Regions from separate parts of the Homo sapiens genome. Here region 1 is linked to region 2. A link means that fine-mapping ties the variant in region 2 to the expression of a gene that starts in the linked region. Tissue or cell type: monocytes after LPS. Region 2 holds a variant in brackets; the other region holds the start of a gene. All regions are shown on one strand. Distances are from middle to middle.

The links. PIP is the estimated chance that this variant, and not a neighbour inherited with it, causes the effect. A credible set is the group of variants that fine-mapping cannot tell apart.
Region 1: it holds the start of CEP89, and the variant in region 2 is the best candidate, but not a certain one, in a credible set for the expression of CEP89 in monocytes after LPS (Fairfax 2014, PIP 0.77).

What each region holds. Positions count from the first base shown.
Region 1 is chr19:32,969,659-32,973,993 of GRCh38, reverse strand. CEP89 (centrosomal protein 89) reads left to right here and starts at 2,036. Exons shown (of 19, transcript NM_032816.5): 1 at 2,036-2,158. The coding sequence starts at 2,120. It overlaps FAAP24 (FA core complex associated protein 24), which reads right to left and starts at 1,752. Exons shown (of 5, transcript NM_152266.5): 1 at 1,648-1,752; 2 at 692-810; 3 at 432-568. The coding sequence starts at 797. RefSeq lists enhancers at 1,579-1,628, 2,009-2,228 and a silencer at 1,769-1,898.
Region 2 is chr19:32,876,765-32,881,150 of GRCh38, reverse strand. It overlaps CEP89 (centrosomal protein 89), which reads left to right. Exons shown (of 19, transcript NM_032816.5): 19 at 1,773-4,386. The coding sequence ends at 1,989. Among named protein-coding and RNA genes, the nearest start is that of SLC7A9, 9.2 kb to the right of the region's middle. The variant T/G (reference allele first, on the strand shown) is at 2,402.

The sequences.
Region 1 (4,335 bases), 93 kb before region 2:
ACTTCGTGCCTGACCTGGCCAATGATTTTAAATAAATGATACCAAGGGATGGAGGGAAGGGTGGGGTGAGACAAATCAATGTTCGAGTTTCTTTAATCCAATGCTTACATTTCTTTTTTGTTTTTGTTTTTTGTTTTTTGAGTTGGAATCTCACTCTGTCGCCCAGGCTGGAGTGCAGTGGCGTGATCTCGGCTCACTACAGCCTCTGCCTCCCAGGCTCAAGCAATTCTCCCGTCTCAGCCTCCCTAGTAGCTGGGATTACAGGCGTGCGCCACCATACTCAGCTAATTTTTGTATTTTTAGCAGAGACAGGGTTTCACCATGTTGGCCAGGCTGGTCTCCAACTACTGACCTCAGGTGATCCACCCGCCTTGGCCTCCCAAAGTGCTGGGATTACTGGCGTGAGCCACAGCACCCAGCCTAATACTTACATTTCTAACCCGAACAAGCCTCTTTCTGTAGCCATTTCCTGCCACCAAATCAGCTTCGGTGACATAAAGAATGCAGCATCTGTTCGACAGATAAAAGTCTGGTGTCAAGCCATCCTCGAAAATGAGCTTAATTTTCCCTTAAAATACAGAGAAGAAAATGAGTTCCATAAGCTTTGGATGAAAAGATGGCAATAATAGGCAGATTTTTTTTTTTTAATATGTCAGGGGAGGAAAGGGCTGGCAGAGGGCAGGCCACCGACCTTGCATCTCCTGCGCCAGCTGTGACCCGCGCCATTTCTCATTGGCCACAATATGCCCCAAAGGCACGTGCACGGGGCCCGTATCATCAGGGGGGTTCTTTTCCATGGATGGTCTCCACCTAAGGAGGGAAAAGCCAGGCGGCACTTGAGCAGGCTCTCCTGCACACGGCCCTGCATTCCACTCCAAGCCAGGGCCTCTGGGGCAGGATCCCCTCTGCAAACTGAATTATTTGTCAAAGAACTGTCAAATAAGATTCCCTTTATAATTACTAATAAGAAAACACAGGCTGGGCGCGGTGGCTCACACCTGTAATCCCAGCACTTTGGGAGGCCGAGCGAGGCGGGTGGATCACAAGGTCAGGAGTTCAAGACCAGCCTGGCCAAGATAGTGAAACCGCGTCTCTACTAAAAATACAAAAAAATTAGCCGGGCTTGGTGGTGGGCACCTGTAATCCCAGCCACTTGGGAGGCTGAGGCAGAGAATTGCTTGAATCCGGAAGGCGGAGGTTGCAGTGAGCCGAGATCGCGCCACTGCACTCCAGCCTGGGCGACAGAGCAAGACTCGTCTCAAAAAAAAAAAAAAAAAAGAAAAGAAAAAGAAAACACAAAGGCCTGAATGAAGGCCAGGGTGGCTGGAGACGGGATGTGTGGTGGTGGAGGTGGTAATGGCATTGGATTCCAATAAGGCCAGAGGCACGATCAGATTTAAGTTTTAAAAGAATCCTGGGCTGGGCATGGTAGCTCACGTCTGTAATCCCAACATTGGGCAAGGCTGAGGCGTGAGGATCGCTTGTGCCCAGGAGTTCGAGACCAGCCTGAGCAATACAGCGAGATCCCGTTTGCCAATTATTTGTGGCGAAATAAATTCTCTAAGAACCAGGAGATTCCTGTCCTGGTGTCCGCGTCCTTCATTTTCATCACGTGCCTAGCCCCTGATACCCCAGCTGGATCCGCACCGTAGCTTCTCAGTCCAGTCCAAGGCCCGAATACAGCCGGCAGGAACCCCACCGTCCCAGTCTAGAGATCATGTTACTGGTGGCCGCGCCACCTTCCGGGTTCACGCCCTCGGTGCTCGCCCAGTCCTTCATCCAGCCCGCCCTCCGCCTCCCGCAGCGCCGGATAGGCTGTGGCGTCAGAAATGGACGTCTAACCTGACCAATAAGAGAACGGATAAGGGCGGACGTTTCCGCCCTGGCGGGGATTTGAACGGTACCCACTGGTTGCCAAGAACGACCGGTGTGGAAGTAACCTTAGCTCTGATTGGTCGAGGGCCGAGCTGAGCCAATGGCCGACGTGGTTGCTGCAAAGTCCATTGCGAAGAGAAAGCGTGAGGGCTGGGCCTGCGGCGGGCTTTAGGGAGTGGTCCCTGGCTGTGGATAGATCTGCTGATGAGTCCAGGCCCCGGTCCATTCTCCTCGCGCTGCAAGGATGCTCCTGGGATTTCGGAGAGGCCGCAGGAGTCATTTCGTAAGTAGATGCTCGCCCGCCGCGCGTGGGGCTCTGTGGGGCCGGGAATTAGGGGTAAAGTGTTGGGGCGGGTTGGGGTTTGGCCTGAGATCCAGTCAAGGGGGCGGCACAAGAGAAAGTGGTTTTCAGTTGAGGAAGCCTTGATTTTTCGTGTTCTAAACTTTTTTTTTTTTTTTTAAGAAACAGGGTCTCGCTCTGTCGCCCAGGCTAGAGTGCAGTGGTGCGATCATAGCTCACTGCATCCTCGAACTCCTGGGCTCAAGCGATCTTCCCACCCCAGCCTCCCGAGGAGCTGAGACTACAGGCGCGCGCCACTACTCCCGGCTAATTGTTCAATATTTTTGTGGAAACAGGGATCTTGCTATGTTCCTATGGTGGTCTTGAGCTCCTTAGCCTCCTAAAGTGTTGGTATCACAGGCGTGAGCCACTGTGCCCGGCGTTAACAATCTTCTGCCCCAGGGTCGGCCACAGTTGGACAGGAGCACCCTGCCTCCCCTGTAGCATTCGTCCCCGTGCCCGGAGTTAACTCCTGGACGACGTACACCTGCTGCACTGCTGGATATAGCCATTCTTCATTTTTCCCTCCTCCACCCACCATGTACACCCCATCAGCAAGTCCCATCCGATATACCCACTACATACATCTGCCAGCTGTTCCCATCTCCACCCACACCCCGGCCTCCAGCATCTGTCTGGACTGCTGCGGCAGATCCTCACTGGTTTCTCTGCTTCCACTCTCGCCCTTCCCCTAGGTCCATTCTCCACGTAGCAGCCAAGGGGATTCTTATATTTATTTATTATTTAATTTAGTTTTAGAGACAGGGTCTTGTCCTGATGCCCAGGCTGGAGTACAGTGGCATGATCATAGCTCACTGTGGCTTCAACCTCTTGGGTTCAAGTGATCCTCCTGCCTCAGGCTCCTGAGTAGCTGGGACTACAGGTGTGCACCACCACACCTAGGTATTTTTTATTTATTTTATTTTTTGCCTCACACTCTGCCAAGTCTCAATGCCTGGCTAATTTTAAAAATTATTTTGTAGAGGCCACGTGAGGTGGCTCTCACCTGTAATCCAGCACTTTGGGAGGCTGAGGCAGGCGGATCATTTGAGGTCAGGAGTTCAAGATTAGCCTGGCCAACATGGTGAAAACCCATCTCTACTAAAAATACAAAAATTAGCGGGCGTGGTGGTGGGCACCTGTAATCCCAGCTACACGGGAGGTTGAGGTGGGATAATCGCTTAAACCCGAGAGGCAGAGGTTGCAGTGAGCCAAGATTGTGCCACTGCACTCCAGCCTGGGCGACAAAGCTAGACTCTGCCTCAAAAAAACATAATTTTTTTTTTTTGGTAGAGATGGGGTCTGGGTATGCTGCCCAGGCTGGTCTTAAACCTTGGCTCAAGCAATCCTCTCACCTTGGCCTCCAGAGTGTTGGGATTACAGGTGTGAGCCACTGCATCTGGCTTGAGTTTTTATTTAAAGCCCCAAACATTAATGAGTCCCTGCTGTGTGCTGATACCCACAACTGACAGCTTATGGCCACACGGTCTGTAGGATAGACAAGCCCATAAATAATTCTGTACACAATGGTAAAACAAGAACTGCTGTTGATGTGTGTACCAGAAGGGCAGTGACGTCAGCCTGGAGAGTTGGCCTGGGCCTGGCAGGGAGTAAGGAAAGAATTCTGGGTGCAGAAGACAGCAAATACCAAGGCCTAAAAAAGAATGAATTATTTGCTGTTTGGGAAATGGAAGCCCACGCTGAGTGCTGAAGCACAGGGACTCTGCGCAGGAAGAGGAGGGGAAGCAAGAAATGAATTTGGGTCCTTGTGATGGCAGTGGCTGCTGCCATCACGCTGTGTGGCTAGGGCTGCACACTTCATGGAGCCGGTGGAAGCCCCGTCCCTCATGAGTTGGGACTGGAGCCGCAAACCGCTGCTGCAGACCCAGGCCTTCTGCTCTATGGAGCAGGCAGGAGCCCCACCCTCTTGGGCAGGGCTACAGCCACCCAAACTGCAGCTGTGGATCCGAGCCTCTCTGCTCCTGGGGGAGCCGGGAACAGGCAGAATTTGCCCTTCCAGATGCAGCTGCAGCCGCGCAGGCAGGAGCCAGGGACAAGTGGGAGCCCTGCCTCTTCCAAGTTGGCGGGGTGGGAGCTCCCAGGTGCAGCTGTGGCTGCCC
Region 2 (4,386 bases):
TTAAACTCTTCATTCACTGCAGTCAGGGCCTGGGGATCCCCACTCATGGGGAACAGTGTAGACTCACTCCAGATCCATTTGAGAGCAGGCCGGTGGCTCTAGTCCCCAGGTGATGCCTGGCCTTTCAGAACAGGTTTCCTTTGAAGATCTGCAGGTCTCCCACCCACCCCTCCTTTCTTTGAGGGTCCTTCACATCCTCCACTTACCTACCTTCACAGTGCCTCTAGTAGGAAGAGAAACTTGGACAAGAGTGGGTCCTGAGATTTTCTGTCACTCTTGATCTGCACGATCTCTCAGTCTACAAACATCCAGGGTTTGGCATTGACTTTTGTCCTCAAAGCAACTGATACTTTGTCTGCCTCTTTGGTTTCAGTTTAGGCTTCATTTTTTCTGCCCTTAGAGACTGCCTGTTCTTTCGAGTTCAGCCATACATTTAAACATGATTGCTATAATTTACCAAATATCTTCAGAAAACCAAAGTCTGGGGAATTTTTTTTTTTTTTTTTTTTTTAAATACAAGGTCTTGCTCTGTTGCCTGGGCTAAAGTACAGTGGCACAATCTCAGCTCACTGCAGCCTCAAATTTCTGGGCTCAAGTCATCCTTCTGCCTCAGCCTCCCGAGTAGCTGGAAATACAGGTGCATGCCACCACGTGGGCCCAGCTAATTTTTAAGTTTTTTGTAGAGATGAGGTCTCACATGTTGCCCAGGCTGGGGCTTTTTTAGACATAGTTTAATTAAGTTGTTCTTACCACACAGTGGGCATCAGGGGCCTTGGAAGGAAGGAACGTTCACAAGAAAAGTGACTCTGGCCAAGTGGGCACATCACTGGCCTCCCTGAACTTCAGTGTCCTGCTCTTTAAACCGTGGTGCGAAGTCCACCTGCAAATCCAGTTTCCAACATTTTCCAGAACCATCTGGCAGTGTCCGGGAAGGAGCTGGCCTCTCCAGCCTGGCCATGCTCCCCGATGGGGCTAAGCACCTTGTGAGGTGTGGCTCGTGTCCTGGTCTATTCCCAGTGGACTGTGGCCCTGTGAGGATGTGGCCACCTTCATCTGTCCTGTCTCCCCAGCACACCACAGGGCACTGCATCCTGGTTCTGGAAACGCTGCCCTGTGGCTCTTTCCAACCTCACATGCCTCGGCCCCTCAGGGCCTCCCCATCCCGGCACATGGGCCAGGCCAATCTTCTCCATCTTGGCAATGAGTCTTATCTCCTCAGGTCCCCCACCTCACCCCCTGACTCGCTCTTAGCTCTGGGCTGTATGGAGCGGAAGACCTGTGGAAGGTCACTGAGTGCTGGCCAGGTCACAGTGGACAAGCAGACGGGACACAGGAGGGGCTGTGTGGGTGCCTGTGGCCAGGCCATCGTGCTAGAGCGTCTGGCTGGCCAAGGCCAGCCCTGCAGTTCCTGCAGTTCCTTATTCGACACGCCCAAGTTCATTCTTGAGAGAAAACAGGGATTGCACTGGCGCCAAAGTCAAGGGCAGAACATAGAGGGAAGAGAAATGCCTGTGCCGTCCTGCTGCTCCCCATTCCCAGGGCACTGGCCGCTTCATTCCACACTGAGCCCCAGCCTGGGCTGTCCTGCTGCTCCCCATTCCCAGGGCACCAGCTGCTTCATTCCACACTGAGCGCTTGCTTCAGAACCCAGGCACCGAGGGCTCTGTTCCCTGCTGATAGCGTTCTTCTGTTTTGAGTTCTTGCTACTTTGGGATTCATATGGGCTCTATATTATTTTTAAAATTGTGCCATTTTAAACTTATTTCCCTCAGAGAAATGGAAGGTGAACTTGAAGTTATTTGGGAATCTACCTTCAGGGAAAACCGAAGAATCCGAGAACTTCTCCAGGACACACTCACGAGGACAGGCGTGCAGGACAACCCCAGAGCTCTGGTTGCCCCCAGCCTCAATGGCGTCTCTCAGGCAGACCTGCTGGACGGCTGCGATGTCTGCTCCTATGACCTGAAGTCTCATGCCCCCACCTGCTAGAATCTGCGGGAGCCCGTGGTGTAGCCTCCTCTGGCCTGAAAGGTCTGCCTCACACAGGCCTTCCCTGCAGGGCAGCCCATGGTGGCAGCCGGAGGTGCGTAAGCCCACTGAACGCTGCAGGGCAGGGAAGAAATAAATGGTCTCATAGTTTAATCCATTGATAACATTTTGCTTTATTTTTTAATTTTTTTTTTTTTTTAGAGCTAGGGTCTCACTCTGTTGCCCATGCTGGAGTACAGTGGTGCAATCATAGCTCACGGCAGCCTCAAACATGTTTGAGATCCTTCTGCTTCAGCCTCCTGAGTAGCTGGGACCTCAGGTGTGCACTGTCAGGCCCAGCTAATTTTTTTCTTTTTTGTTGAGATGAGGTCTTGCTATGTTGCTCAGGCTGGTCTTGAACTCCTGGCCTCAA[T/G]CTGTCCTCCTGCCTTGGCCTCCCAAAGTGCGGGAATGACACGTGTGAGCCACTGCGCCTGGCCCATTGTGCTTTATTTTAATAACGTGCTGCTGAAATCTGTTTTAGCCAGGGCATGTTCTCTGGCCACATTGCCACTGAGATGAGTTCTATGACACCCACTGCTCTGGTGAGTAGGTGGCCTGCTGAGCAGGCCTGCCTTCCAGCTCCTAGATCTGCAGCTGGGAAGTGCTGGAAGGGTTGGGCGGGCAGCTGAGCCCTCGTGCCATGTGTCAGATGGGGAAGTGTCACCCGAGGAGCCAGGCCATGGCACCGGCCCTGATGATAGCTGTGCGTGAGCTCTGGGGGCCTTTTCTTGTTTGGTCAAAAAAAACAAGGTGCTGCTGCTGTTCATGCCCTCTAAGTTGTACAAACCTTTTCTGCCCTCTCCCCTAGCCCTTCTCTATCCTCCTGAGCAAGTACTTTATTCTCTTTTGTTTAGTTGTTACTTTTGTTTGTTTGTTTTGAGACAGGGTCTCACTCTGTTACCCAGGCTGGAATGCAGTGGTGCAATCACCACAGCCTTGACCTCCAGGCTCAAGCGATCCTCCCATCCCAGCCTCCTGAGTAGGTGAGATGACAGGTATACACTAACATGCCTGGCTAATTTTGTAAAAAAAAAATTTTTGTAGGCCAGCCATGGTGGCTCACTCCTGTAATCCCAGCACTTTGGGAGGTCGAGGCAGGCGGATCACCCGAGGCCAGGAGTTCGAGACCAGCCTGGCCAACATGGTGAAACCCCATCTCTACTAAAAATACAAAAATTAGCTGGGCATGGTGGTGGGTGCCTGTAATCCCAGCTACTTGGGAGGCTGAGGCAGGAGAATTGCTTGAACCTGGAAGGCGGAGGTTGCAGTGAACCAAGATCACGCCATTATACCCCAGCCTGGGCAGCCTGGGCAACAAGAGCGAGACTTTGTCTCAAAAAAAAAAAATTTTTTTTTTGGTAGAGATGGGGTCTTGCTATGTTGCCCAAGCTGGTCTCAAACGTCTAGCTTCAAGCAATCCTCCTGCCTAGGCCTCCCAAAGTGTTGGGATTATAGGTATGAGCCACCGCGCCTGGTCTGGGAAGGTAATTGATTCTGGAGCCACACAGCTCCCCACCCATGTAATGAGAGCCCTGGCTTTGAGCTAAGATAGAGTCCCTGCCCCACTGCCACCACCAAGAAGCATACCAGGGGGCCATGGTTCTGTCCCATGTGTGTTAGATGACGTGCCACCTCCTCAGGAAAATTACCCCAGCCGCTCAGGACCATTCAGTCCCAGGCATGCTGGAGGGACTTGGGGACATTGGGCTACAAAGGACCCTAACTGTGGGACTCAGGGGTGGCACCCTGCAGCATCTCCTTTTCAGAGCCCCTCGCAGTGAAGTCCTGCCTTGTTTCAGGTGGGAAGGAGGCCCCAGTACTGGTCCTTGGTCATGTGTAGAAGTTCTACGTGTGATCTTTGATTGCCAGACGGAAGGGTGAGATAGAAAATCATAGTTCTTTTATGACTCTATAAGCTTGTTCAACAGTTGAATCATTGTAATTTAATTTTATTTTACAAGCGGTAGAAAGACTCACTGGGATTGAAAACTGTGTATCATCTCCCTAGGAGATGACCTAACAAATAACTGTGATGCTATTTCAAAGGCATTTACGGCCGCTCTGCAGCCTCCTGTAGACAGGCTGACAGGCGGCGGCAGCCCAGCGTGGCTGCGCGGGGCAGGAGTGCTTGTCAGCAGGAATGCTGCTCCCGCCATCGTGACCTAGAGAACCACTGTTGACATCCCTGTCTTTCTGCCTTTTATGCAAACATTTTATTCTTTTGAGAAGTGTCCACTTTTGTTCTTATGTTTCTGCTTTAAGTTTTTCACACAGTGCAAACATACTTTGCAAGTATGGGGACTCCTGGATGGCACTGTGACCAGGGCAAGGGCAGGTGTCCCACAGACACTATCTTCT